Regions from separate parts of the Homo sapiens genome. Here all the other regions are linked to region 1. Evidence: fine-mapped expression QTL. A gene starts in region 1. Each other region holds a variant in brackets. All regions are shown on one strand. Distances are between the middles of the regions. Region 1 holds the start of ACSS1 (acyl-CoA synthetase short chain family member 1). Region 2 has its middle 7.0 kb from the start of VSX1. Region 3 overlaps ACSS1 (acyl-CoA synthetase short chain family member 1).

Region 1 (10,296 bases):
ATGCGACAAGCCATGCGGAGCTGAGGGCCGGCCAGCCAGGGCGCTCCATCTCGCTCACAGATGCCCAGGGCCCCACCCAGGGCCTAACACAGCTGGACGCAGTCGGCCAATGCCCGTGGCTGGGGCAGGGGTTTGGTATTTTGTTTTAAAAAGGCATTATAAGAGTATTGGGATTTCCATTACAATCCTGACACACACGTACGAATTTTCAAGTACTCTTGTTGCTTATTTAAATACATCCCTCACACTCACACACCCTAACTGAAAGTGGAACCCAGCATACAGAAATTCAATTTGAATACGGAGTTACTATTCACAATGAGCTTTTTTTTTTTTTTTTTTTTTGAGACAGGGTCTCACTCCATTGCCCAGGCTAGAGTGCGCTGGCGTGATCTCAGCTCACTGCAACCTCCACCTCCTGGGCTCAAGGGATCCTCCCACCTCAGCCTTCCAAGTAACTGGGACTACAGGTATGCACCACCACGCTCGGCTAATTTTTTTTTTTTTTTTTTGAGATGGGGTTCTCACTACGTTGCCAGGCTGGTCTCAAACTCCTGGGCTCAAGCGATCTGCCCACCTCAGCCTCCCAAAGTACTGGGATTCCAGGCATGAGCCACGGCGCCTGGCCCACAATGGACTTTCTTTTAATAGCAATCTTCCCTGGCAGGCTTTGAGATATTACGTCAGTCACAAAAATTGTTTTGGACAATTTTCCCAAAGCATCTGTTATTTAAAGTAAGTCGTGCCCCTGACAGCTGGGGAGGACTTGGATTCCTCGGGAGGATCCTCCTCCTAAGATTAGGGGTTCCTTTTTCATGTAGAGTTCCCTGAAAAACCTTAGAAAAGTTACTTTAATCACTGGAATCACTAGGAGGAAAATGAAGCACAGGCGCACAGCGTCTTGCCGCTGTCAGTGTCCTGCCTTCTGAACGATTAGAGGCATGCCACAGAGAGGAAACTACAGCAAACACAGAGGAACTACAGCAAAAGGGCCTCTGTTCCTGCAATTAATCTCCAAAAAGCATCCAAGAAATTTCCCAGTGCTCAATGCTTGGTTACAAAGAGGATTTTTACACTCTTGCTTAAGAGTACACACACTGAAAAACATCACTTAAAATTGGGGGTTTTAAAAATAGAGCTTAGCTGTGTGTTTTGAAAGCAACACATGTCATTACCCTCTGGTTCTGCATTTACAACTTCCTGACATCTTGAGTTGATATGCCACAGGGCAAAAAGAGCTGCAGAGCCCTACAAAGGACAGAGCCAAATTTCACAGGTGGGAAAGAATCCCTTTTAGAACCTGGCTCTCCAAAGAACCTTCTGCAAGGCAGTTTTACACAATAGAAGCAAGTCACAGAAGGGCACAGACACTCTGTCTACCCTGCCCAGTGAGTCTCAGACACCATAACCTCAACTGGCTATTGGAGTTGTGGGATGGGCAGGATACTGTGGAGCTTTGAAAGCAACCTCAGCCACCTGCATGCTCTCCGAAGCCTATTCCCCACCTATCCCAGGCTGATCAGATGCAAGCCCATGTGGTCCAGTTCAGATGAAGCTCAGCTCTCTCAGCAGCACTGCCGAAGGCCAAGCACAAGGTCACAGCCTCCCCACATGCTTCATTAATAAATAACAAATAGTCAGTGACTGGGGATGTATAATGTGTTAAGAAAGTGCTGAGTGCCTTACAAGCATTTCCTCATTTCATTCTAACAGCCCTGGGATGGGTGTGCTGATAGATACTCCCATGGATAACAAAACAGGTGCAAACACTCAGGTCCCCTTCCCCAGGTCGGAAGATGCCTGATAACATCTGTGCTGGTCTCTTGGACCTCTGGTTGCAGGAAATTGCCTGGGCCCAGCCACCATGCTGTGACAAGCCCCAGGAGGTGCTTTGGGCCACAGTTCTGGCTGAAGCCAGCCTGCAAGTTGTCCCAAACAAGGCTCCAGACTTGGGAGTGAGAAACAGGCAGATGACTCCAACCTCAGACACTGAGGAGCAGGAGCAAGTGTTAAATAAAATGTATAGGAGGCCACTGGTCTGGACTGAGCTGCATGAGGCCCAATAGATCACACAAAAATGGAGTCACTCTTGCTAAAGTGCGGTGTCACCAAATGGAAACTAAGTTGTTTATCCGACCTTCTAAGAAACAAGGAGAGTGAAAGATAGCTAAATCTCCAAACAAGCTGGCATGATAAGGGAGCTCCTTCCACTTTCACCTTTACAACAAAAGTAGCTTTGAAATAACCAGTCCACTTTTTGTTCTCCATGTCTGCATCCTTCAGCCCCTTCTGTCTATAAAACCATCCTCCTCTGTTCAGCTCATCAAACATTCCTTCTGTTTTATGGAATGGGGTGTTTCCCAATTCTATAATCACGAATAAAGTGAAGTAAGGTCTTTAAACTAAATTTGTCCTAATTTTGCCCTTTGACATGAGTCATCCCCATCGGGCCCTGTCCAAAGTCCTGACTCACAGACTCTGCGAGGAATATAAAATTGTTGTTATCTTGTGTCACTAAACTTAGGGGTGGTTTGATGTACATCAATAGTAACTAGGACAGAATTCAGTTACATACGGCCCTTGTTTTACAGATGAGGAAACATGCAAAGTACAGTACAGGGAAAGCAAGAAATCAACCCGAGTCATGATTCTAAAGACACCTGGAGCCACGAAACTGTGTTGCGCCATCCACAGCCCATCATTTGCTTGCTGTTTGTTTAATAGGGCCAAGGCCAGGACACTAATCCCAATTCTGTTTTAGAAGTGCCTTCATCTGCCCTGGTTTGAGGCGTACAGGCCAGTGGTTCTCAAGCCCGAGTGTCCTCTGGAGCATCTGAAGGGCTCGTTATAAACACAGGTGTCAGGTCCCATCCCAGGGTTTCTGATTCCAGATGTCCAGGATGGGCTCCAGAATTTGTATTTCTCAAAAGTTCTCAGGTAATGCTGATGCTGCAGGTCTGAAGACCATGCGTTGAGAACCACTGGTATTCTTGAGGGGGTGAGGTGAAGCTTTCTTCAAGAGTGATATTCCTTTGGAACAAGCCATCTGACTTTATCACACACAGCTGACAGATCAGACCAAAGTGTTCTCATCCATCCCACGACTTTCTAGATGCTCCCAGAAGAGTCATGGCCTGGCCTGGCCCTTTTTCATACTGTCTTCTCTATGGTTTGCAGACACCGGCAAAGGAAAGAGATATTGCTGACCCATGAACAGGAGGGCACGCACATCCCAGGGGAGAAAGCTGCTGAAAAGCTGTTTTTCAAGTTAGTTTTCTGAAGCTCAATTTCTGGCTAACGTAGCCATAAAGGCCATATTATCAGAAGAAATAAGTGAAGGAAAAGGAGACAGAAGAATGCTTGCTGACCACACCCTGATCCTGACCGAGCGAGGTTCAGAAGGTCCTTGCTGTTGGCCCCAGGAGGTCCGCCCCACTGTCTTATCTGAGTGGGGCTGCAAGTGTGCACAGGCCAACTGTGAATGTTCCCCATGACCTTGGCCTCACAAGTCCAGAGCAGGTCACTTTCCACCTCTGTCCTTGGGCAAGCTGCTCTAGTCTCCTTCAAGGGCACATTGCCCCAACTCTGCAAACCAAAGGGTTTGGTTTTTTTCCCACTAGTTCAAGGGCACTTGCTGCTGACTCAATGTTAAAGAAAACACTTATCTAGTAAGTGACTCATTTTAATTAAACCAGCAAAGTAATATACAATTTCGGGGAGTGGGGGAGGTCCAAAGTTCCTTCCAATTTCTTTGAAAAATAACTGCAAGACACTATCTATAATTGTATGACTATTTCTGAAGTTATCTAAAATCGCTACTGCTTATGGGTCACCAGTAAGCGCTGGGTCTGCTGCACACCTTGCAGCACTCAGCCTAACCTCTGAGCATGACTGCCCCCATCCTCACAATGAGGAGACTGAGGGCTGGGGGGGCAGAACAACAAGGACAACTGAGGGAGGAGTTGGAGAAAATGGGGCCCTGGTGACCCTGCCATAAAGACCCGCAGGTCCTTTCTTAAACACTCCCAAATCCAGCAAGCTGGTTATGACCACCCTTCTGGTCTGCATCCCTCTGATCAACACCGTGTCTGCCAGCCCCTCCCCGCAGGCCCCACACCCAGGCCCACCCTGCATCCGGAGCCCACCTCGCACTTGGCACCCACCCTGCGTGGCCAGCCCTGCCTGCAGTTCAGGGCCTCCCCCTCGGTGCCCAGTCAGCGCCTTAGGTGGGGGCGAGGGTGCTGTGTACGACCCCCAGCCCCAAATCTTAGCAGAGCAGCAGGGCCTCTGCTCAGCAAGTTCCAAACAACTGACCACCAGTCAACTGTTTGGGGCCGACGTCAGACCCCGCGGGTCCAAAGCAGGCCCCAGGTCGCTGGGGTGCAGTTCTCTGAGGCCGAGAACGAGAACGGGGAGGCCGCCGTTACTTCCTTCCCGTCCACAGGCCCCAGGCCCCAGGCCCGCAGCGAAGAAATAACTGGTTCCAGCTGCCACGCCGAGTTTCCTCCTCCCCAGGTCGCCCGCCACAGCTCTGTTTGTTTACGTGGGCAGGGCTTGTCCCCAGGCTGATCCCCGGGCACCGCAGCCCGCAGTGACAACCGCCACCGCTTTGTTTTTCCCTCCACCCCGGTATGGGAACGGGAAAGTCCCGACTCCGGGGCGCTCGGGTGTAGCCCGCGGCTCCCCGCCGGCTCTTGCTCAGCGGCGCTATGCACCCGGTAACGCAACTCTGGAGTCCGCCGAGCGAGGAGCCGCGCCGAGCAAGGCCAGCAGCGGGGCGTCCCAAGCGGCCGCCGGGTCCCCGCGGGCGCCGGCCCGAGCTGGGCACGTGGATCTGGGGCCCGATGGGATGAGGGACGGGGTGACGTGGAGCCACTGCTTAGAGCGGGCGGGGCGGACGGAATACCGGAGGAGGGGCCCCTGCAGGGCTGCGATCCGCGCTGCCCGGGGACGGCTGCCGCTGGCGAGAGGCTCCGAGTCCCCTCGGGACCCAAGAGTTGGGGGCGTCCTGGGTCTCCCGAAGCCCACTCACCAGAGACATTTAACTGGCCTCCCAGGAACCAGCCGATCTTGCCAGTGCTGAAGTCGCAGTCCCAGACGGTGTGGTAGGGGGTGTCCCACACGAGAGTGTCCCGCGCCAGAGGCCCCCAGAAGGCGGCCGGCTCCCGGGCTGCCTGTGCACTCAGCGCGGGATACGAGCCTGGCTGTGCTGCTGCTGCTGCAACTGCGGGAGCGCTGCCCGAGGGTCCCGAGGCCGCCCTGCGCGGCGCGCTCACCCCGCACGGCGGCCGCGCGGGCTGCCCCGAGAGCCCTCGCAGGCTGCCCAGCAGCCTCCCGACGCCGCGGCCCAGGGTGCGCGCCGCCATCTAGGCAGGCTACCTGAGCTCTCTGTGCTCCCAGAGTGGGTGCCTCACGCCCGGGGCGCCCCGTGGAGTCTCCGCGGGCCCCGCCCCTGCTCCGCCCTTCCGCCACCATCCATTCCTCCAGGGCCCCCTCCCGGAGCCCGCCCGGGTCCCACCCCTTCTTCTGCTGCCCGGGAGAGGGGGGGCCGCTTAGGAAGAGGGGAGCAGCGTGGGGAAGGGGTGCAGGGGAGCGCGGGGCGGAGCAGGGTCCCAGGCCCTGGCCCAGGCGCTGCGCTCCGGTGAGTCTGCGGTCCCACCCGGATGTTCCTCGAGTCGGCCTGTTTTGGTTTCAGTTTGCACGCTCTCCTGCAAGCCCCGACAGCTTCTTCGAGCTGCCAGAGGCACGTGCGGCCCAGGACCCCAGGACGCAGGCTCAGGGCCTGGGGCGAGGGGACCCTCTGGGATGGGGAGGAGCCGGGAGGGAGCCGGCACCAACGTTAAGGGGGCTGGTGCACCCAAGCGCACTGGTGGGTCCCAAGACAATAGGTCGGTCAGTTCCGCATCTCAGAGGCTGAAGCCAAGGTTTTCATGCCTTTGTGCGCCCCTGAGAGTGAACCCCACCCCTGGAGTCTCAGCAGCACGCGAAAGGGGCTGGCGCCTTTCTAGGCTCCCGCCTAGAAGCCAGGAGGCTGCGCAAGCCTGAGTCCGTGTTCTGGGTCCCATGCTCCAGCCCCCCAGCTGCCGGCCTCCGTCCTGGCGGGGGTCACGTCCTGCTGGGGGTCGGTGGTGGGTGATATGGGGCGATGAGGACTTTCTCCAGTTGCTGCAGCATCTGTAGCCTGAGTTCAAACTCTGTGACCTTGAGCAAGTTCCTTAACTTCTCGGTGCCTCGTTTTCCTTTTGGGGAAGACGGAAGTAATGTCTCCCTGGGGGGCGGGGACGGCGGGGGTGGGCAGCTGCAGTAAGGAATACATTGGACAATGTCTGTCAAGCGTCTACCCTTGCGTGGCCCCATAGTAAGCTCAGTAGTGGGGATGATGTTTTTGCAGCTGTGGAGCCAGGAAGGACAGAAGGAAACGTATAAAACTGGTCTCCACCGAGTTCTTAAATATTCTGACACCCAAGAAGTAAATTCATAACAAACGGGTAAACACAGGGAAGAGAGATTTTGGAAAACTGGTTTATTGAGTTCTCTGTGATGGGAAAGTTTCTTTCCCTTGAGCTGTAGGGCTTGCAGAGGGGAGGAGCCTGCCATTGGAGGAGCCTCTGCGTGGGCTAGCCACCAGCCCCTGCTGGGGAATGCTGCTGTCTGCCAGAGAAGACAGGAGTGTACCTAGAGCTGGAGAATCAGTGACATCTACTAGCATAACACATGCCCTGCACAGTGCTAGCGCTTGACCTGCATTTTCTCCTTTATTTATTTATGATACTTTTTTAGAGATAGGGCCTGTAGCCCAGGCTGGAGTGCAATGGTTCCCATCACAGCTCACTACAGCCTGGAACTCCTGAGCTCAAGCGATCCTCCTGACTCGGCCTCCTGAGTATCTGGAACTACAAGCGTGTGCCACGGCACCCGACTAGTCTACTTAATTTGAAACTTATCTAGTGCTGTCCATTCCCACCAACTGTCAAACTCCAGGTGGAAAAAATGAGGAAACTGAGCCCAAATAAATAAAAGGACTTACTAAAGAGCATGCAGCTGGCTAAGGGAAGAGCAAGACTAACACCCAGTGCCCCCAGTGGGGAGCTCGTTGGCCTAAGTTCATTTGAATAGAATATTAAAGACACCCAGTACAGGGCACTGAGAGGCAGAGGTCAGTGAGTAGTAAAATTGTAAACTGAGAAAGCTCCTAACTGTGGCAGGGGGTCCCAAAGACGGCCACCAACTCTTCCTTCCCACGCCTGCACCGCCTGCACATGATGGTGTGCTGCTCTGTCCAGAGGAGGACCCTGGCTGGCTGGATTGCTTTGGCCAGTACAGCCTGGTGGGAGGGATGCTGTGACAGTTCCATGTGGAGGTCCTGAGAGACCCCGTAGCCCCAGCTTATCCTCCCATGGAACCCAGCTGCGAGCTGTGAGGAAGCGGGGCTGGCCTTCCAGAGGAAGGGACCCAGGGCGAGGATGAAGCTGTCCCATCCACAGCCAGGACCAACTCCCAGACAAGAATGACGCCAATGTGGAGGCTCCTGTCCCAGCCAAGGCAGCCTCATGAGTCACCCCAGATAACACCTGGGATGCAAAGGAACCTCCCAGTCCACTTACAGAATTGTAGAAGGAATAAATTTAAGCCACTAAATTTTGGGATGGTTTGTAACTCAGCAGTGGTAACTGATACAACAACTGAGGCTGAAAAATGCATGGTTCTTTCACTCACTGACTATTGCCTCTCAGTGCCCTGTACTGGGTGCCTTTCTTCTCTCTGCCTTCCAAGTGTTGAAGTGCCCAGGAGCTCAGCCCTCAAATCCCCCTTTCTCCCCTGCCCCCTAGGAAACAGCAGCCAGCTCTCTAGCCTCTCACTTTCATATTGACACCTCCCGCCTGGACCTTTCCTCCACATCTCAGTCCTGTATTCAAATGTCTCATTCACATCTGAAACATACCAAGTCCTGGGATTCTTCCCCACAACACGGATCTTCCATGTCAGTGAATGGAAATGGCATTTTCCTGTTGTTTGGGCTCATACCCTTGTCATCCTAGATTCCTCCCCCTCACACTCCACATGCAGCCTGTCAGCAAATCCTGTGACTCACCTTCAGAACACCTGCAGCACTAACCTCTTCCCCCATCACCATCCCCTCCTGCTACCATCCTAACCATACCTATCTCTTTTAGGATTATTCAGTAGGCTTCAAATTGCTTTCACCCTTGCCCCTGACAGCCTAACCAGCAGCCAGTGCAATTCCTTTAAAACAAGAGTCAGAGGAACTTGCTCTGGAGCTTGGAACAATCCAAAGGCTCCCCAGTCTCCTCAAAACAAAGACCACATCATTCCCTGGCCCACAGGCCATAGCCTCACTACTTAACGTGTGGTCCATGGGCCAGCAGCATCACTTGGATACTTTGTAGAAATGCAGAATGCCAGGCTCCATCTCAGACCTGCTGCCTCAGAATCTGCATCTTAAGCCCCAGGGGAGCTGCATGCACATTCACGTTAGAGAAGCGTTGCCCTCCCTGATCCAGTGTACCCTCTTCCTCTGCTCTCACTCATTGGGGCTCCAGCACATCAGCCTCCTCCTGTCCTTCCCATCACCCAGCAGGCTCCCACCTCAGGACTGCCACACGATGTCCCTTCTGCCTGGAATGCTCCACCCAGTTGTCCACAGAGACTCCCCCTCACCTCCTTCAGGTGTCTTCAAACATCCCTTCATCCAAGAGCCCTTTCTTCCCTGTCACCTACATAAAGTTATACCTCCGCCCTCATTCCCTAGTCTCAACCCCTGACTTGACTTTTCTCCATGGCTGTTACTTATTAGCTCTGTGTTTATCTTCCTAGTCCTCCTACCAGGAGGGAGCCCTGTGAGAGAAGAGACCAGCTATGCTGCTTGTGACTGGGCCTGGCACCAACAGCCACCCCATGGAGAGTGCACGGCAATGGCTCCTTCTTCCTACTACCTTCGTTTCTAAGGTCTTCTACAGTTGCAATGAGAAAAGTAGGTAGAACTAACTCTGTTTTAAAATAAATGCTACCTCGTTCCTTCTGGTTGGATAAGAAGAAGTGATCATTTCAGAACCAAACATGTCAGAACCAACCAGGTGGTGCAGAACTGCACTTCTTGCTGCCCGAGTTACCTAGAGGTGGCCTTGAGACCTTCCTTCTGAGTGTCACAGCCCAGGCCAAGGTCGTCCCCACTGCCTCCCTCCTGGCAGCCAGTCATCAACTCTTGCAGAACAAGCACAAGATTGAACAAGCACAAGGAGCACCCACTCTTGGCCCTGCATCCCGAAGGACCCTCAGAGGTTTGGACAGGGCAGCAGGCTATCTGGGCAGTGCTGGTCACATCTTCTCCCTAAGAAGCCGCTGGCCTCAACTTCAGGAGAGCTCACTTGGAACGCTGGATGCTGTCAGGCAGGGGCTGCAGACACACGAAGTGCTTAGAGGGCAGGGTTCTTGGGAATCCGGGATTCGCTTCTGTCTCGGTACTAATGTTTAGGCCAGAAATGCCAACACAGCTGTGACTACTGACCCTACAACCTGCAGCAGTGAATGCTCTTGCCCTTGCTGTACATGTGTGAAAATAAGCAGGAGGACAGAAGCTCACCCGAGGCCACCAGCTAGTAGGTAGCAGAGCCATAGCGTCCAGAGCATCTTAATTTAACAGCTTTAGGGACAGAGCCCACCAACACGGCCTTCGCCATTTGCCTTCATAGCTCCTGCCATGCCCATTACTCCAGAGTCGCAGTGCTCAGATGCTCAAGAAACAGTCCTGGCTGATAACGGATCCCCAACCACTCCCTGTGCACTCAGTGGTCTCCAAAGAGCTGGTAAAACCCTCCCTTCCTCTTCTCTCCTCCATCTCTCCCTCTTCCTGTTCTCTTCATTTGTCTCTGTGACCCCACACACACACACCTCTTTCCAATGACACTCAGAAGAAACCTGTGAGCTTCTCCCATGTGCACCACCAAGAGCTGAGGGCTCTCAGTTGGACAAGGACGGTCCAGTTTTGGTCCCTGCAAGCAAGCAGGTCACAGTTCAAATTGGGGAGAGACAGACACTGTTCAAATAGCTGAAATGCACAGTAAAACCAAAACACAGAATTTAGAAGAGCATGGCAGAGCTCAGATCAAGTACAGGACCCAGATGCTGGGAGTCTGGAATTGGCTTCGTCACCAGTTCACTGAGTTCTTTCTCTACTCTGCATCAGCTACAAAGAAAGATCACCAGATTGGGGAAAAGGAAAAGCAGGTTTTATTCCCGGCCAGGCATGGAGAAGGAGAGAGCACTTGCTCTAAAGAC
Region 2 (10,296 bases), 31 kb after region 1:
CACCAAAAGGCCAGGCGGTAGGAGCCCAGCCTCAGACACTCTCTATAGTGACCGCGGCGCCTCGGGAAGGATCGTCTTAAACTCATTTTGCAGGTGAGAGCAACTGGGACTTATTAACCCAGTCACATCGGACACAGAGACGTGGCGAGGGCGACACAGAGCAGGAGACTCAATCAAGGAGCCCGTATTGGAGCTCTAAGGGGACTCAGAGATGCAGAAGGAACGAACTTCTAAGGGGTCTTGCAATTCCTGGACTGGGGCGTTCCTAATGCATCCCGGGACCCCAATGCCAGGGAGGGGCCTGCAGGACCCCAGCGGTGGGCGAGTTGTGTCCTGGGTCACCTTGTGTTTCGCAGCGTGGCGGTGGCAGGAGCCCAGCGCGGGAGGACATTTTCATAGCCTCCTACAGTGAGAAACGCCCCCCACCCGACGCTGCGCTCATCTGTGTCCCCGCTGTTGCCGGGGCTCTGGTATCCACTTGCGCGCCCTATGTGGTGGGGATCCACCCAGAGCCCAGCGTCAAGTTATACGGGCGCTTCACTCAGCGTCAGCCAAGACCAGGGAAGCGCTTCTTGCCGTTTAGGAGACGTCTGCAAGAGATAAAAAGCTAGCCCACGATCCACCCACAATCCTCGTGTCCCCGGGGTGCCCTCGCAGTTGCCAAACCTACGGGCCGCGTTTAGGGGAAGCCTCCGCGTCCTGGCGGCCAAAAGAATGGGCTCCTTCCAGCTTCCCCCTACCGGATACCACCTGCAAATCTATTGCCAGAGGCGCAGCTCCCGCGAACGTTCCCGCCCCGGGCGGCCCCCAGGAGTCGTTTTGGGTCCCTAAATCCGTTGAGGGTTCCGAATCTGTCTTCATCAGCCAGGATTACCCGGGATTTAACTAATGAATAAAGGTTCCTCAGCTCATTATTTTCTAAGGAAGATTTCCAGCCCCTCTGTCGCCGACCGCGAATGTGCCTTGGCAGCGCCAGGCTGAGGTTGGACCTGCTGTGAGTGGCTCAGCAGGCACCCCTCTTGGGCTTCTCAGAGCCGCGGCTGGCCAGGCTGGCGCGATAAAGTGCTCAGACACAATGGGGTGGGATGCCCCGAGAAGGTGAAACGGATCGCCCTGTGAGTCTGCAGAAATGACCCCCCACGGCTCCGTTCTTCTGATTTTCCTCCCACCTCTGGCTGCTCCATCTCGGATGCTTTTGTGTCTTCAGTTAAAAGTCCGGGCACAGTGGCTCACGCCTGTAATCTCAGCACTTTGGGAGGGCGAGGCGGGCGGATCACAAGGTCAGGAGTTCAAGACCAGCCTGACCAAAATGGAGAAACCCTGTCTCTACTAAAAATACAAAATTAGCCGGGCATGGTGATGCATGCCTGTAACCCCAGCTACTAGGGAGGCTGAGACAGAAGAATCGTTTGAACCTAGAAGGCGGAGGTTGCGGTGAGCTGAGATAGAGCCATTGCACTCCAGCCTGGGCAACAAGAGTGAAACTCCGTCTCCAAAAAAAAAAAAAAAAAAAAAAGTTGTGGCAGAGGCTGTTTGGCCCCACCCACCTCCAGCCTGACCCCTCCAACTGCACGCCTGCCCAGCCTCCAGTGCCCGCCACATCTTTACCTGGGGACTTTTCTCGACCTTCAGAGCTCACTCTGCCCACTAGCTAAAGGTGCCAATAATTAACACGTGGAGAAATGCGACACCAAACACTGACGGGAATTGCAATGTAAGCACCCCCCGCTACACACACACAAACACACCCCTGCACAGAGTGACTCTTAGAGGTGCCTTCTACTCCGCCTCCCAGAGATCCAAGCAGGAGGAGCTTTAGTTACTTGCTGATGATTGCATTCCATATTGCCTCGTATCTAAATGCTGTTGTGCCTACCCAGACCCCCTTTCCAGAACTGTCGCACCTTCTTCCAGCTGTTGTGAGTGTGGGGCCCTCGAATAGGAAGAATTGCCCTTGGCTGACAAAAGCCCCTTAATCCAGAGCCCCCCACCCCCTGACAAACACACACACTGTGTCATCAACTGACAGAGGGATGATAGGAGGCCTCTCCTCTCGTTTCAAAGGACAGCTCTGCAGAGGCGTTTCTGCTACAAGACCCTCTCCCTTCATGGATCAGACCAAGTCAGCTCCTTGCTCAGCTTGTTCCCACCCCATCTTGGCCCCTCATTCCTGAGACCTTGTCTCAATATCTCTCAGGCGCCCAGACCCTGTCCCTGGCTCTGCTTCTAGCCACCTGAGCTCAGACACTTCCTGTCTCCATCTCGCTTTTACCTGGGTGTTCCTGGAATGCTCAGCTCAAAGTCTACAGAGCCCTTCTTTCTTCTCAGGTGGAACCCCACGGGGCAATCACCATCTCCCTGCCCAGATCTCTGGAATCTTCTCCAATCTGGACCCCACTCTTGAAGCCCAGGCTGTTGTCTCAATGTACTCCTGCATGTCTGAACCAGTCTCCCGGGGCACTGAAATGCAACACACCCAGAGCTGAACACAGCAGCCTCCCCTGCAGCCTGCACCTCCCCAGGTCTCCTCTTCCTCCACCCCGGGGCCCACACAGAATCGAGTGTCATCCTCAGGCCCTCACTCTCCCCACAGGCTCTCCTCCCACGACTGAAAGTGATGAAGATGGCCAACCTCTCTTGGCTTCTTACTGGGGGGCAGCTATTATTATAAACACCTTATCACAATGGCCACATTTCATCCTGACCACAGCTCTATGGGTAGATAATATTATTGTCCACATGCTTCAGATGAGGAAGTGAAAATTTCAAGTGATTAAATAATTGCATAAATTGCCCAAGGTCACTCACTATCCAGTGGCAAAGACAGGATTTGAATACAAGCAGTGTCAGCTCACGGCCTAACTCTGACTGTGGGTGTCTTGCTGCCCTGCATCTCTCTTCAAACCCTCTCAAAGTGGCATCTTCTTTCCTTTGCCTGCTCTGATTTGACTGTGTGCCCTGAAGTTCGTGTGTTGTGCCTTAATCGCCAATGCAACAGTGTTGAGAGGTGGAGGCTTTAGGGAGTGATTAGGTCAGGAGGGCTCTGCCCTGAGGAGTGGATCAATACCATTGTTGCAGGAGTGGGTTAGTTATTGTGGGAATGGGTTAGTTATCGTGAGAGTGGGTTAGTGACCATGGGAGTGGGCACATGAGTTTGGCCCCTTCCCGCCCCCTCTTCTGCTCTTCCTCTCTCACCATGTGACACCTTCCACCATGTGATGTGGCAGCAAGAAGGCCCTCACCTGATGTGGTCCCTTGACCTTGAACTTCTTCCCAGTCTCCAAACCATGAGCCAAATAAACCTGTATTGTTTATGAATTACGCAGTCTGTGGTATTCTGTTACCGCAGCACAGAACAGACCATGACACCACCCATTGCCACAACATGGCTCAGACCAATTGCTCACTTGCTGGAGTGGAATTTATTTTTTAGTCTAGGGCTACTCAGTATACAAATGAGTTTCAGAGTACCCTAAAGAGGTGGCTTCTAAAAAAAAAAAGAAAGAAAGAAAGAAAAAAAACAGCAGGTAAAGTCCTCCTTGTCCCACTCCTTGGCAGTTCTGTGACCTTGACCCAGGGACAAAAGGAGAGGGAGGGTTTTCTGCAGCAGCAATGGTGGGTGTCCCGTGGCTACCCTGCATGCTATGGCACACTCACTGCTGTGCCCTGTGGTGACTTGGCCTTGTTCCCAGGTGCCTGGGCTGCACATCCCTGCCCTTCCTCTCCAGCTGTCCATCAGTCTGGGGAGGGGGTGTATGGGGGAGAAACAATGCCATTCAGTAAGGCTATTTTCTGTGTAAATTGGCTGGGTGACATTTCTGTGGTTTGCATCCAATAACCCTGTCTAGGGTGTATGGCCAGGGCTCTGCCCTCTGGAATCTCCTTCTACCTCCTTCATGCCCCTCCCCATACCCCACCACTGCCATCTTTATTCCACAGCCACAGTGATCCTTGCCTGAGCACAGCCTATTGCTCCCTACTGCAGTTTCCTCAATGGCTTCCCCTTGCCACATGGGCAATGCTAACTCCTAACTCCTTCCTGCTAGTGACTGAAGAAGTGATGGTATCACATGCCCAGCTCATCAGTGAACAAGCAGGCTCTTGAGAGTCAGCAATGTGGTATATCCTATAAAACTGACCCAGGGTGCGGAGATCAGGGTTGTCCATCCTCTCATCAGCCCCATGAGAGCACCAGCCCCCGAGTTCCCTTTCTTGGCTGGATGTTCCGGTTACTATTTTAAGGTAACACATTATCCCAAAACTCAGCTACTTACAAACCATTTCATTTTGGTCACAGTTTTGTGGCTCAAAAATCTGGGGAGAGCTCAGCAGGCCATTATCACTTAGAGCCCTCCTGTGGTTGCTGTCTGGGGTGGCAGTCATCTGAGGGCTCAACGGGGCTGTGCTGGGTGCTCAAGGCAGCCCGCTCACATGGCCCAGGCTGATTGGCCTTGTGGGCTCTCGGGGAGTTGGGAGCATCCCACAAGAACCAGGCAGATGCTGCACAGCCTTTGCTGGCCCTTCCACAGAAGTCAGAGCATTACTTCCATCACGTTCAGTCAGCGAGGCCATAGCATGAGTTTTGGGGGAGTGGCACTTCTGCTTTCATGGGCCCCTTCTTCCATAAAAATATTTAAAGTTGTATTTTGTGCCTATGTTGGCATAAAGGTGAATATAATCCAGTCTAGATTCATTATTGTATATTCTTTATTATTGTACTCATTTTTCCTTCTGATTTTAAAATATATTCAATGGCATTAGAAGCATAGGCCCTGGGCATTGTACCCAAGGCATTAGTGTGCACTGGCCCTGCTGACTGGTTTAAGCAGCCACAAGCCACCAGATTCAAGGACAGGACACAGATTCAAGGTGGGACACAGGACCCACCACATCGCACTTGCAGGGCCAGGCGCCAAGCAGTGCTCAGCCACCCATCAACGCCCAGCCCAAATGGTTCCTCACCGCAGAGCCTCCCCAGGTTTTCCTGCCCCAGCTGGAACAAAATCACTGCTGCACTCTTGAAGCACTTGATGCTCCTTTGGTCTTATTTTCTTATTCTTAAGTTCTTTTGTGTCTGTTCTCATCTCCTA[C/T]CTGGCTCCAGGAGCCCAGAACTGAGTCTTTTCATTAACACATCCCCTGGACAAATGTTCTTTACCTTCCAGGACAGTGACTTCCCTGGTGGCCTCTGGAAGAGGCCTCCTTACTATGTGCCAGTGGTTCTCAAAGTGTGGTTCCCAAAAGTGGTTCTGGCCACCTGGGCATTGGCCAGAAAAACAAACTCTTGGACCCCATCCAGACCTCCAACATCAGAGACCTTGGGGAGACCCATGATCTGTGTGTTCACAAGCCCCCCAGAGGACCCTGAGCCCCACTCAAGTTTGAGAACCACATCTTCTATTAATGCTTCATGAACCATATATCCTGACTGGTTTTACAAATATGTTGTGGGTGCAGAAACACCCAGTTATTCTCAAATGCTCTGAGGAGCTATGAGGAAAGCTTGAGTTCAGCACTAAGATAATAGTCAGCACCAGACATGAGCTTAGGGAATCAGGAAATTGAGGTTCTAAAAGGAGAAGGAAAAAAGAAAAGAGAAAATTTTATTTTAAAATGTTACATATCAAAAAATACATTAGTGGGAAAACTCACAGCCACCATCGGTGGGGCCCTTGGTCTGCGCCAGGCACTGCAGAGCTTCTCACGAACCCATTCACTTACCACTTGTGACAGCTCTGATGAGGGAGGTCCTGTATCGTCCCCATTCTGTGGGTGAGAAAACGGAGGCCCAGAGCTGGGACCAGCCCAACAGCCAGGGGAGCGGTCAGGACCCAAATCCTGACGGTCAGGCTAGAAGCAGCGAAATCTCCACGGGGCCTGGTCTGTGGCTTAACCTTGGTTTTGTTCTTCATGTTGCAGCGCTTGGGATCTGGCGAGGTCTGACTCTTACACTGTTCCAACTGCTGTAGACGGATGGCATTATGGGCTTGAGGCAGATTTCCCAGAGGCTCACATGCCCCATGGCCGGTCTTTTCCCTTTAGGTCCTGAGACAATAGGAAAATCCTGGGTAGGAATCCAGGTAACACTTTGATTCCAAAGAACATACTTCTCTTCCTCCTTTTCCAGCCTCTTCACTGTCTCTCTCCTCTCCTCTCTTCTCTTCCTTAGCTTCTTCTGGTTAAGTTCCATCTGTAAGACAAAGGAACCCAGAGCCAAGTTAAGCTTAGGAGAGGACACACCATCCAGTCCCTGAGCTAAGCCCACCCTCGGACCCCACTGCAGAAAAGGTCATGAGCAGAGGGCACAGAAGGATCTGCCTCTCCTCCTCTCCCCCATGGCAGACAAAAGCAGGTGCACTGTGTGGACATCAAGAAGGTGAGAGGGAGGTGACATAGGCCACCCTAACCAGAAGGTCACACCTGGGCATGTGAGGGGCCGCTGAAGGACAGCCCAAGAGCTGCTGCTGAGCTTCATTTCTGGTATTAAACAAGCACTAGGTCATCTCTTGGCAATTGAGAAACCTGGCCAATGATAATGTGCTTTTAACCAGCTCATATTAGAAGTGAATGTGATCACTATCCCAGCTCACAGGTAGCACCGAGGCTCTAGGCAAAGGTCAGAACAACTCTGCCAGGGTGGCGTGACTGCGGGTTCCTGCCTCTGCTTGCTGGGGACCTACTTACTCCAAGGAGGCAGGCACCGGCCATGACCCTATTTGAAGGAGGTCTTTGCTCCTCCCTCTGTGCTCAACTCCCAGTCAGCTCCCTCCAAGGCATCCGCCACAATTGCAACCGTTCACTCACCTGCTGGTTTACTGCTTTACCCATCTGCCTTGCCGGATGCTGTAGCTGACAGTGCTGGCAGGCTGCCCTCCGGGTCGCCTGCAGCCTCTGTAGACAGTTCACACACACACCACAGCTTCCTGCCTGCAGCACCTGCCACTCGAGCGGAGGATGCCCCAAAGCCAGGAGTGCACCAGCTAGGACTGAAGTCCTGGGGGGCAGAGGGTGATGCCTCCAGCAGCCACTCTTGACAGATGACAGGGGTTGATGGATGATACCTGGCCAAGGGGTGCAATGATCCTGTGGTAGGAAAATCCCGAAGAGAAATCACCTTGCATAGTCACCCGAGGTCCTGGTGTGATTGAGCCTTGGGAAATGCCACTTGCTGTCACAGCTTCTCTGTGTCCCTGCCCCTCCCCTACTAGAACTTCCTGGGTTCCTCCCACATTACTTACTTCACTCAAATCCCTGTCTCAGAGTCTGCTGTGCAGAACCCAAGCCTAGACTGACCATAAGCTCCAGAGCAGGGCTGGGGCTGGCCTGGGGCCCCTGCATGCCAGGGCCCCGCACACTCCTGGTGCAGAGCCAGTGCTTAGTGAAGGTCTGCAGCGGGGGAACAGGCCATAAGATGGAGGAGTCTGAACCATATGCCTGTTGCCTGACGGGGTCTCCTGGGAGAAACTTAGCTCTTCCCCATTCACTCCACATTAGATCTGGAGTCCTCTCCCCAGTCCTGTCCCCATGCTCAAGGCCTGGTCCAAGGAAGGTTGGCTGGGAGCATGTCATCCACTGTAACCTGAGTGCTCAAGAGGAAAGAAAGGCGCCCCAACATCAGACTCTCACAGCCCAGCCCTGGGACTGCCCTCCTGCAGGAAGAAGCTGAATATTTTACAAAATACTAGAAGAAGAGGCTGAGAAATTTACAAACCTGTTTCACTCACCGGTTTCAACAAAAGTGTGGAAATGAATGTCACTGAGCTGCCACCCTGAAACTGCTTTGTTTGTGCTGAGTTTTCACTGATGAAGGCTAGCAGAAGCGGCAGCATGGCTAGGGCACCTTGGGGACTCTGGCAGGGTTGGCTGCAGCAGCCATCTGTGTGGACCCAGTACCTCCAGTCCATCACCCTGAGTGGAGGGTTGCAGCATGCTTGTCTGATTACTGACTCTTCTTCTAGCTCACTCCCCCTAACACACTAATAACCGGACATGCTCAGATCGGTCAGAGAAATGCTCATGAAAGAGTGGAGGAAGAGAAGGAGAAATCAGAAAGGAGAGGGTACAACAATGAAGAAGACCCATCCATCGCAGACACTGGCCACCACATGCATTAAATCAGCCCTTCCTGGACACAACAAAGGCCACTATCCTAAGTTCAGCTCCCTGTAGAGACAGGAAATGGCAAATGCTGAGACATTTTATTCCTAAACTACCGTTATAGTCAAGTCTTTTGTCTGCCAAAGGGGAAAGGATTCTGCAGTGGTTTATGCTCTTCATCCTCTCACACACTTAGAGGAACTTTGAGTACATACTTCCCATACTGCTGAGCATACATCTTCGGGTCCTGAGGGTTCTTGTCTTTCATTTCAAGTAGGAGGTAAATTTTAGAGTGCCCTGGCCAAGGAGGGAGCCCATTCAGATGGTTGCAAGGAAGTGGGGGGCCTTCGAATTTTATTTTTGGTTTACATAATACTTCAGATGCATGCACCTAACAACAGAGTATCAAAACACAGGAAGCGAAAACTGATAGAACAGCAAGGAAAATATAAGCTATATAAAATTCTTTACTGCATTAATAGTTGGAGACTTCAACGCTCCTTTATCAGTAATTGATAGATCTAGTGGGCATAAAATCAGTAAGGGTATAGTAAGGAACAGCACCATTTATCACTGGATCTAACTGACGTCTATAGAGTACTTCATCCAACAACAGCAGAATACATATTTTTCTCAAGATCACATGGAACATTCATCAAATAGGCCATATTCGAGGCCATAACACATACCTTAACAAATTTAAACGAATAGAAATTATCCAAAATATGTTCTCAGAGCACAGTGGAATTAAACTAGAAGTCAAAAACAGAAATCTACCAGAAGCTGAAAAAAAAATCCCCAAATATATGGAGATTAAGCAATGTACTTCTATTTTACATAAGAATTAAAGAAGAAGTCTCAAGAAAAATTAAAAAGTATTTTTAACTTAATGAAAATAAAAATACAACTTACCAAATGTGTGGAATGCAGTGAAAACAGTGCTTAGAGGAAAATATGTAACATTAAATTCATTTGCTAGAAAAGAAGGAAGGGCCGGGCGCAGTGGCTCATGCCTGTAATCCCAGCACTTTAAGGGCCAAGGCGGGTAGATCACCCGAGGTCAGGAGTTCGAGACCAGTCTGGCCAACATGGGGAAACCCCATCTCTACTAAAAATATAAAAATCAGCTGGGCATGGTGGTGCACGCCTGTAGTCCCAGCTACTTGGGAGGCTGAGGCAGGAGAATAGCTTGAACCTAGGAGGTAGAGGTTGCAGTGAGCCAAGATGGTACCATTGCACTCCAGCCTGGGTGACAGAGTAAGACTCTGTCTCCCAAAAAAAAAAAAAAGAAAAGAAAAGAAGGAAGCTCTTAAATCAATCATCCAATCTTCCAACTTAGGAAATTAGAAAAAAAGAAGGGCAAATTGAATCAAAAGTAGATATAAGAAAATAAATTTTAAAATTAGAGAATAATTCAATAAAATGGAAAGTAAGAAATCATTAGAAAAAATAAATGAAACCAAAAGCTGATTCTTTGAAAAGAACAATAAAATCAGTAAACCTCTATTCTGGCTAAGTGAAAAAGAAAGAGATACAAATTGCTCATACTGTAAATAAAAGAAGGGTCATCACTGCTGATCCCATGAACATTAAAAAGATAATAAGGAAGTATTATAAACAAATATATGTATACAGTTGATAAGCTGGATGAAATGGATCAATTTTCTGAAAGACACAAATTACCAAAACTCACAAAAAGAGAAATAGATATTCTAAGTAGGTCTATATCTACTAAAGAAATTAAATTAATAAGTAATAGCCCTCAAAAAATAAAGCACTAAAGACCAGGTTATTTCACTGGTTGCTTCCACCAAACCATTTAAGGAAAAAATAATACGAATTCTCAAAGTCTCTTCCAAAATATAAAAACAAAGGGAATTCTTCCTAACTCATTCTATGAGGCCAACATTACACTAACACCAAAACTAGATAAAGACATTACAGGAAAGGAAAAATACAAACCAGTATCTCTCATGAACATAGATGCCAAAATCATCATCAAAATATTAGCAAATTAACCCAAAAGTGTATAAAAAGAATTATGCCAGGGACAGTGGCTCACGCTTGTAATCCCAGCAACTCAGGAGGTTAAAGTGGGAGGATTGCTTAAGGCCAGGAATTAGAGACCAGCTGGGCAACATAGAAAGACCCCTGTATCTAAAAATAAAAATAAATTCAATAGCGAGCCATGGTGCTGTATGC
Region 3 (10,296 bases), 26 kb before region 1:
ATTTAAAGAATTAGCACCAATCCTTCTCAAACTCTTCCAAAAAATTGAAGAGGAGATACTTTCAAATTCATTTTATGAGGCCAGCATTACCCTGATACTAAAGCCAGACAAAGATTACTATAGAAAAGAAAACTACAGACAAATATCTCATATAAACAATGATACAAAACTCTTCCACAAAATGCTAGCAAACTGTATCCAGCAGCATATTAACAGAATATACTATGACCAATCAGGACTTACCCTAGGAAAGGAAGGGTGGTTCAACATGCAACAATTAATCACTGTAATACATCACACTACTACAATGAAGGAAAAAACACATCTCAATTGACGCAGAGCAAGCATTTGACAAAATCCAACACCCTTTGATGATCAAACACTTAAAACTAGGAATAGAAGGGAACTTAATGGATAAAGAGCATCTGAAAACCCACAGCTAACATCATATTAATGGTAAAAGACTGAAGCCTTCCCCCTAAGATCAGGAACAAAACAAGGATGCCCACTTTTCACCACTGCAATTCAACATTGTAAACAAAGTTGTTGCCAGAGTGATCAGGCAAAAAAAAAAAAAAAAAAGAAATAAAAGACATCCAAATTGGAAAAGAAGAAGTAAAACTATATTCAGAGATGATATGATCTACTATGTATAAATCCTAATGAATCCACAAAAAAACTATTTATTAGAGCTAATAAATCATTAAATTTGCAATATACAAGATCACTATGCAAAAATTGCTGTATCTCTACATATTAGCAATGAACAATCTGTAAAGGAAATTAGGAAAACAATTCCATTTATAAAAATTCATAAAAGAATAAGATACTTAGGAATAAATTTAGCCTAGGATATGCAAGACTTGTACACTGAATACCACAAAATATTGTTGAAAGAAATTTTAAAATACTTAAATAAATGGAAAGATATCCCATGTTTGTGGATTAATATTGTCAATATGGCAATACCTTCCAATTTTTCTACAGATTGAATGCAATCAAAATCCCAACATCTTTTTTTGCAGAAATGGAAAAGCTAATCCTAAAATTCCTATGAAAATACAAGAAAGCAAGAAGAGCCAAAACAATCTTGAAAAAAGAAGAACAAAGTTGGGAGACTCACGCTTCCTGGTTTTAAAACTTACAAAGCTACAGTGTCAAAACAGTTTGATACTGAGATAATAATAGATACATAGGTAATCATATGGATAAATGGAATAGGATAGAGAGCCCAGAAATAATCCCTCACATATATGGTCAAATTATTTTCAACAAGAGTACCAAGTCCATTTAACAGGGAAAAGAACAGCCTCTTTAGCAAATGGCGCTGGGACCACTGGATAGCCATAGGACAAAGAATGAAACTGGACCCTTACCTCACACCCTGTACAAAAATCAACTCAAAATTAAAGATCTAAATGTAAAAAGGTAAAACTTAAATTCTTTGAAGAAAACATACGAACAGGGAGGCCGAGGCGGGCGGATCACGAGGTCAAGAGATCGAGACCATCCTGGTCAACATGGTGAAATCCTGTTTCTACTAAAACTACAAAAATTAGCTCGATGCAGTGGCACGTGCCTGTAATCCCAGCTACTCGGGAGGCTGAGGTAGGAGAATCACTTGAACCCAGGAGGCGGAGGTTGCAGTGAGCTGAGATCATGCCCCTGCACTCCAGCCTGGCAACAGAGCGAGAATCCATCTCAAAAAGAAAAAAAAAAGAAAACATAGGAAAAAATCTTCACAGCATTAGATTTGGCAATGTTTTCTCAAATAATACAGCAAAGACACAAGCAACAAAATAAAAAATAGATAAATTAGACTCCATTAAAATTTAAAACTTTTATACACCAAAGTTTACTACTGAGAAAGTGAAAAGACCACCCACAGAATGGGAGAATATTTGCAAATCATATATCTGATAGAGGTCTAATATTCAGAATATATAAGTAACTTACATACTCAACAACAAAAAGACAAGCAAGCAATTAAAATATGGGCAAACAGCTTAAGTAGACTTTGTCCAGTGAAAACATACAAATGGCCAACAAGTACATAAAAGATGTTCAATATTATTAGTCATTAGGGAAATGCAAATCAAAACCACAATGAGATACAACTTCATTCTTACTATGACGGCTGTAATTTTTTAAAGTGAAAAACAACAAGATGCAGAGAAACTGGAGCCTGCATACACTATTAGTGGAAATGTAAAATGGTGCATCTCCTTAGCAAAACAGTTTTACAGTTCTTTGATAAGTTAAACATGGAATTACCACATGAGTCAGCAAGCCCACTCATAGGTATATACCCCCAAAATTAAAAACAGGTGTTCCTATACATGAACATTCATAACAGCTCTATTCACAATAGCCAAAAAATGGAAACAACCCAAATGGCCATCAATGAATGCATATTATTCACCTATTAAAAATATGAAATACCGATACATGCCACAACATGGATGAATGGAGAATGTCTGCTTAATGGGTGTAAAGTGTACATTTTGAGTGATGAAAAACTTCAGGTACTAGATACTGATGATGACTGCATAACACTGTGAATGTACTTAATGTGACTGAATTGTACACTTTAAGATGGTTACAACAGTAATTTTAGGGGAGGGGAATAATAATAGTATTATTGCATAAAATACTTATGAAGAGTAAGGTAAATTAAAGGACATAACCTTTGTAGAGTGCTTAGAACAGTGCCTGGTACACAGTTGGTATTACAGAGTTCTAGAGAGAGGAAGAAAAAGAGAAAGAGGTAGCAGCATCACCCTTGAACGTGGGGGAAGAAACTCTGAAAGGAAGCGGAAGGGCTTCCCAGCCTTTTATACAGAGGGAGGTCAACAGGAGTCTGAGAACTCTACCCATTAGTTCTATTTTCTATGAGGCACAAGAATTCTCAATGGCACCTAGAACCTGGCACCTGCCTTGCGAAGCCAGCTCAGGGACTCCCTCTAGGAGACAGCAGGGTGCAGAGATCAGACTGCATGGACATAGGGCCACCATCCAGACACTCAGTCCTTTGACAACAGCAAAACAAGGAAGTTATTGTTCTGCACAATGTCCAAAACACACTGACCCACATGCAGACAGAAAGACCCCCTTCACCTGACTCCAGATCCCCAAATATGGTCCACACCTTCACTCCTCAGGATAGAAGCCTTCCAGTTGTTGACCTGTGGAACCTTCCCTGTGCATCTCCAGCCTTATCCCACCTCCACACTTCCCTCCTGCCGCACTACACCCACCTGCACTAGGCCCTCATGCTGTGCTCCTCCTCCACTTGGCCTGTGCCTCTGCTGTTCCCTCCAACTGGAACTGTCCCTTTTTCACCTGGCTAAATCCAATGCACTCAGATCTCAGCCCACAGAACAAATTCTCATTCGGCCATGTGCCTGTCCCTAGTACGATCTGTCATTTGTCTGTGTGACATTAATGTCTGCACTCTGATGGTCTCTACACTGATGGCCAGGCCCCCAGGAACAAGGATCAGGGAACTCCAGGGTTCCTCCCTCCCCATGCCCACCTCCTCACCATCATTGATCCTCCCAGCCAAGGACTCTGCACTGAAGCCAGCAAAGATGACTGTGTGGACAGCTCCGATCCTGGCACAGGCCAGCATTGCTGCCACAGCCAATGGGGACACGGGCATGTAGATGGCAACACGGTCCCCACGGTGGACTCCATGCCTCTTCAGCGTGTTGGCCAGGCGGCACGTGGTCTCCAGTAGTTCCCTGCAGCACAGGGAAGAGAAAGCCATCAGAGATGGAGGAGGGCCAAAATGCAGAGCAGTTTGGGGGTGGAGCAATACTGCAAATTTTATGTCATATACATCCAGCCCAGTGCCAGGAAAACAGGCACTTGAATACTTAATGCATGGAAAGTACTTTTCCAGAAAAAGAAAAGTTTTTAACATTTGTAGATTGCTATTGGCAGAGATTCACTGCCACATTGCTAGGGTGACAAGGCTATCCTTAAGTCCGCTTACGGCAGGGTTTTTTTAGGGGAACAGGAGCGTAGGGGAGCCATGGTGACACCATTTTAGAATCAATTCCATCTTAAAACTAGCAAGGCACATTCCTTGCCAGTCATGACCCACAGTCATAAGATGTTTACAGCTGACGAAGTAGCTTAATACCTGCAAAGACAAACTCTTGCAACAACAGAATGTCCAGATGCCCCAATATTGCATAATATATGCTTTTAAGATGATTATAGGCATGCTTTGATGTACTTATGCACTAAAATGCCAAGGATAGCTTTCTTTCAATCAACAAAGTAATAAATGTCACTTCGTCAGCCTACCCGCAGGGAGAC[A/G]TAGCTTAGCTTTTACATAGATAAGACCCCTATATAAGAAAGAAACAAAACAGAGGCATTCCTCCTCTTGCTGAGGATGCCCTACTATGTAACTGAGAAGCTTTCAATAAACTATCTCTTTTCACTGCGCTCTGCCACTCGCCTTGGATTCCTTCCCGGCATGATCCAAGAACCCTCTCCTGGGATCCGGATGGGGACCCCTTTTTCCAGCAGCAGCTTCTCAGGGACCACAAGTGTCTGAGGCATAGATCATCATGGTTCCAAAACTTCCGAAAATGTTTGCCTCCAAAAGAAAGACTGATCTCATAAGACATTTAGTCGAGAAACAACAGGTCCCAGATTTCTGAATCAACACAGTCGAGGGGCACCAAATAATGCTCTCAGGGAGCAGACCCCCAAGCCCAGATAGGGCGGACTCCAGCTCTGCAAAGCCACAGTGAGTTGGGAGTGAAGACCGCAAGCAGGGCAGCCACAACTCCCTGCAGCCCCGAGACAGCACTGGCGGGTAGAGCAAGCACCCTGCTTTCTCCCCAAGCTAGGGGACCATGGACAAGGGGAAGGGAAAGCACTGGGCACAAGGTGGGTGAGCAGCACCCCCGCCCAGCCCCCATGTCGTCCACCACGTTGCCTATGTCTATGGTGTGCGCATGCCCTTCCTCTCTGGCCACTCTGGGGCCTATCACCAGGTTCACCCACCACTCAGGGCGCATCATCTCTCTGGGCAAGCTGATTGGCTCAGGGCCGACACGTGACCCAACCTGGTCCAGTCAGAGTCAACCATACTCAACTCCGGGAAAACTGGGAGCAGGCGAGAGCCGCCAACTTGCCGGCCATGCGGTGCGAAGTGGAGGAAGTGGAAGCGATCCCAAGGTTGTCTTTCCTTTCGGCGCCTCATCCCTCTGAATCTGGACCTGGCAATTGCATTAACCACTTTCCCACTCTTGCTGTACTGACTTTAATTAATTATTTGCAATAAAAAGAGCTAACACAGAACGAAGAATGAGGGGAAGCCAAGGCCCTTTCTCTCTGGGCGGGGCAGACCACCAGCCCGCGACCCCTGCCCTCTGCAGGGGCCCAGAAAGCAGACCCTCCTCGGGCTCTCAAGGCCGCTCGCAGCGTGTTTGCATAGCTCTCCTCTGTTCAAAGGGTAGTCAAGGAAAGGGCTCCCGAGAACAGTGAAGCTCAACGAGGCCACCCGGGAAACCACAGCAGAATGAAAATGAGCTGTCCGCATCACAGGCAGGGGCCTCAAGGAGGCCTTTGTTTCTTCCCAAGGCCATCTGCAGAGGGGACCACATGAGAACCAGATCGCAAGGCCAGCCCGCAGTTCTCCCCGCAGCCAGCACGCCTGCCCAGCCTGGCTCCAGCGGCCTCTTCTGTGGGATTTCATCGTTTTCCCTTCAGGCTTTCAGAAGGAGGACAAAGGCGCCTTTCAGTGGCGCCCCACCCACGCACCCCTTGCCAAGGTTTATGATAAAAGACGGAACACTCCCCCGGAAAACCCCCAGCACCAAGCTCTACAGAATCTAGGGCTCAGAAACACTCCTGCTACTCCGGGGAGGAGGCTGGGGTGGCCTGTGACCGGCTGAAGAGGGAGCCGTGGTCCAGAGTCACTCAACATCTTCAGCCAGATTCCGTTTTCATAGCTCTGAGAGCTTAAGCCTCGCTGCTACCAGAGATGAAGGCTTGAATTATGCTCACCAGTTAAATGGCGATGAAATTTAGTCCCTGTTCTGCAGACGGAGGGCAGCAATCTGAAGCCAAGAAAGGACACTGGACTGTCCCTACAGAAAGGCCTGGGGTAGCTTTCTGTAGTAGCTGCCTAGACATGGGAGCTTATCTTTCTGAGCTGCCATGTGACCATCTGAGAAACAGCAAGCACCCTCCACCTTGTACAGCTGTCACAAGTATTAATAAAAAGCAAGACTGACTTGGAACTCTGCCAAACATTCAGTAGCTATCGTCTTTCCCATCAGATGGAAATTCTCAGAAATCTTTGTTTGAAATCGTTTTCTAAAATGACAAAAACCAGCTAACTCACTTCAGTGAATTCCTGAGATGTTAAAAATCCCATTCTAGGCACCTTGGGAGTGAGTGGGGTGTTTGCATTTGAGAAAGGAATTGACAGGGAGAGTGTCCTCCAGGAGCACAGCTCCGATGAGGAAATGACGGCACATGTGAAGGTGTGCAGGGCACTGAGCAGCTCAACTTGGTGGTACAGCCACTGGGGGTGGCAGGGAAGGGCAGCAGGGAGAGCTTTCTGGATAGATTGGCTGTTGGGAGGAGGACTGGGGCAGAAAGAAGAGTGGATTTTCCCTATAGGGGCAGAAGTCACCCAGTCATTGAAGCTGGACAGCTAAACGACAGCCTCCAGGGAGGGTCTAGAGACCAGGTTTCCCTGGAAGACTGAGGGGCCTCAACATGGGCCCAAGAGCTGAAGCAGGGTCTGGTGAGTCTCACACTCTTGCTGCTGAGTCCAGAGGAGGGGCTCCTGATGAAGGATTTGATCCGGTAAATCTCAGAGCTCTCTCCCTTCCTATTTTCTCTGCCAAGGTCATAAACCTTGAAGTGGAAAGGATCCTTGGACGTCAGGCGGTGCAGCCTCCTTGAGGTTCTGAAATCTGGCAGCCACATTCTGGCCTACAGCAGTCCAGCCTCTACTTAATCATCACACTGCCAGAGCTCACCTCATGGGGCCACATCTCTGTCACTTTAATAGGGAAACAGTCTACCAAAAATTGGACCAAGATTTGCAGCTCTTCAAACTCCACCCCTTAGTCCTACCTCAGACCTTTAAAGCTTCCCAGAATAAATCTAATTTCTCAATGACAGCCCTTCAAATTCCTGAATACTCCTTGCCCCTCATCCTCTTGGAAGCTTTTCCTCCCCAGGTTCTCTGGTCGAGCCCTCCATGACGGCACTCGATCTCAGTAGACACCCCCAGACTTCCAAATGGACCCCCACATTCTCATGGTGCCTGCCCAGAGCTGAATGTGGGTACCCAGACCCTTGACCTCAATTCTATATTTAACCTTTTTTTTTTTGAGGTGGAGTTTCGCTCTTGTTGCCCAGGCTGGAGTGCAATGGCACGATCTCAGCTCACTGCAACCTCCACCTCCCAGGTTCAAACAATTCTCCCACCTCAGCCTCCCGAGTAGTTGGGATTACAGGCATGCACCACCATGCCCAGCTAATTTTGTATTTTTAGTAGAGACGGGGTTTCTCCATGTTGGTCAGGCTGGTCTTGAACTCCCGACCTCAGGAGATCCACCCACCTCGGCCTCCCAAAGTGCTGGGATTACAGGCATGAGCTATCACCACGCCAGGCCGACCATATGGATTTTTTGTTTTTTGTTTTTTGTTTTTTTTGAGATGGAGTCTCGCTCTGTTGCCGAGGCTGGAGTGCAGTGGCGCGATCTCCACCCACTGCAAGCTCCGCCCCCTGGGTTCATGCCATTCTCCTGCCTCAGCCCAGCCGGAGTAGCTGGGACTACAGGTGCCCGCCACCACGCCTGGCTAATTTTTTTGTATTTTTAGTAGAGACGGGGTTTCACAGTGTTCACCAGGATGATCTCAATCTCCTGACCTCATGATCCACCTGCCTTGGCCTCCCGAAGTGCTGGGATTACAGGTGTGAGCCACCGCACCCGGCCGACCATATGCATTTTTAAAATACCTGACAGGTGGCTCAAATTCAACATGAGGTCACTAACCTGCACCCTCCCAACTCCTAATACATGTAACAGATGCCCTTTAACTAGGGCTTGCTCCTATTATGGCCATGGAAATGTTTTGTGTTTTTTTAAAGCAGGCTTTCCATTTATCCCAATCTAATTCTATCTCAATTTCTCCCCATCTTTCCAGGTGACTTTTTTTTTTTTTGAGATAGAGTCTCACTCTGTCACCCAGACTGGAGTGCAGGGGTGCCATCTCCGCTCACTGCAACCTCCACCTCCCAGGTTCAAGGGATTCTCCTGCCTCAGCCTCCTGAGTAGCTGGGACTACAGGCGTGCACCACCACACCCAGCTAATTTTTGTATTTTAGTAGAGACAGGTTTCACCATGTTGGCCAGGCTGGTCCTGAACTCCTGACCTCAAGTGATCCACTGGCCTTGGCCTCCCAAAGTGCTGGAATTACAGGCATGAACCACCACACCCAGCCAATTTTTGAAGCCTGGATTTTTAAGTTTAAACTCTCATTTTTCATTAGTAATATCCTCCAGACATATATTATTGGAAAATATGGTCAGCAAACCTAGGTCTTCAAATCATTGAAAAATAAATGTTGTTCAAGTAAGTGATCCTGCCATTCCAAGTACTCAGGAACCATTTGAAAGCATGTTTTTGGATATTCATAATTTCTCAGACTTCCACAAACCGAAATGTTACTGTTTCTGTATCAGAAAGATAATGCAGCCACTCAGTGACTGGTGCCTTGGGCTACAGTTGCAGGAAACAGTGGCTTCCTCACTACCTGCAGGATCCTCTTATGTAGCACCCTAGTGGGTTTCCAAAGCACGGGGACATGCAGCTTTCTGAGTCACTAAAATGAGTTAGAGTTTTACTTTTAAGTCCAAGAAGAAATATAACACTTGTTGTTCAGGTACTGAGCAGGATATTTAGGTTTGTCTGCAGTGTACTCTGCCGGGTCAAGCTTTTGGTGCAGACGTATGCAAATGATGTGCACAAAAATACAAATGTGGCCTTGTGTTCCTGGTGCTTAACACTAGGAAAACGCTGACTGGCCTTGGGGAAGGAAGAAGACTTATTACCAACTCTTAACATCAATTGGGAATAACTTTTATCCAATGCTAAAGATACAATCTGACTGCAAGTAATTGTGACCAACACGATAACTGCCTGAACTCAGACGGTACAACTGCACCCCTGCCCCCCACCCCCCGCCTCAGAATTTAAAATTAGTCCAAAACAGGAAACAGCTGGAAACAGAGTTCAGAGAAAAGAGAGGAAGAAATACACTGGTATTTATTTTTTCATCTGTCTTTCAATCAGAGCTAGTTTTGTCACGGTTAATATTGAAAGTGTCTTTTCCTCCTAGACATTTCCTGATGAAGGCCCAGGATAAGTAAGTCCTGTGTGTGCTCTCGTGTTTAAGAAATAAACAAATTAAGGCTGGGCATAGTGGCTCACAGCTGTAATCCCAGCATTTTGGGAGGCTGAGGCAGGCAGATCACTTGAGGTCAGGAGTTTAAGACCAGCCTGGCCAACCATAGCAAAACCCTGTGTCTACTAAAAATACAGAAATTAGCCAGGCGTGGTGCTGCATGTCTGAATCCCAGCTACTTGGGAGGCTAAGGCAGGAGAATCGCTTGAACCCAGGAGGTGGAGATTGCAGTGAACTGAGATCCCATCACTGCACTGCAGCCTGGGTGACAGAGCTAGACTCTGTCAAAAAAAAAAAAAGAAGAAGAAGAAAGAAAGAAAAAGAAAGAAAGAAGAAAGAAAGGAAGGAAGGAAGGAAGGAAGGAAAGAAAGAAAGAGGGAAAGAAAGAAATTGAGAATGCATGATTGTTTATTGCTTACAATTATTCTGGCAGTCAGTATTCATGAAATAAACATTAGCTAACAGACTTCTTTGTTGTCCATCAAGTACAAGGTCTGCTTGGGTAGAGATCTGGGTTTTGCTTATTGCCTTCCTCCTGGCATCCACCTAGCTCATATAAGGTACTCAATAAATATTTGTTGAGCAAATGGGCGCAGCAGGTGAGCATGAAGTGGGAAGGACCTCCACCAAGAGCGACACCCACCCTGCAGACACCCTGTGTCCTCCTTCCCCTGAGGGGCTAGGCTGCTGTCACCTTGCATCACGCTGGCATGAAGATGTGCTGCTGCTCTGAGAAGCAAATGGGAAGGACCCCCTCTGAGAAACCAGCCTACAGAAACGTTTCATTTTCTTCTGCCAATAAGGGAAGTAAACCCAGGTAATTGTCTTGATATGTGAAGGCCTCT

The links. PIP is the estimated chance that this variant, and not a neighbour inherited with it, causes the effect. A credible set is the group of variants that fine-mapping cannot tell apart.
Region 2: its variant is the best candidate, but not a certain one, in a credible set for the expression of ACSS1 in whole blood (TOPMed, PIP 0.73).
Region 3: its variant is the best candidate, but not a certain one, in a credible set for the expression of ACSS1 in thyroid (GTEx, PIP 0.65).

Annotation. Positions count from the first base shown.
Region 1 is chr20:25,052,737-25,063,032 of GRCh38, forward strand. ACSS1 (acyl-CoA synthetase short chain family member 1) reads right to left here and starts at 5,403. Exons shown (of 14, transcript NM_032501.4): 1 at 5,033-5,403. The coding sequence starts at 5,366. It overlaps LOC124904882 (a long non-coding RNA gene), which reads right to left. Exons shown (of 2, transcript XR_007067555.1): 2 at 10,226-10,296. RefSeq lists enhancers at 4,499-4,628, 5,279-5,884 and silencers at 4,729-4,998, 5,129-5,658.
Region 2 is chr20:25,084,042-25,094,337 of GRCh38, forward strand. No RefSeq gene overlaps it. Among named protein-coding and RNA genes, the nearest start is that of VSX1, 7.0 kb to the left of the region's middle. RefSeq lists an enhancer at 1-592. The variant C/T (reference allele first, on the strand shown) is at 5,091.
Region 3 is chr20:25,027,216-25,037,511 of GRCh38, forward strand. ACSS1 (acyl-CoA synthetase short chain family member 1) reads right to left here. Exons shown (of 14, transcript NM_032501.4): 3 at 3,544-3,743. Among named protein-coding and RNA genes, the nearest start is that of ACSS1, 26 kb to the right of the region's middle. RefSeq lists a silencer at 9,178-9,472. The variant A/G (reference allele first, on the strand shown) is at 4,327.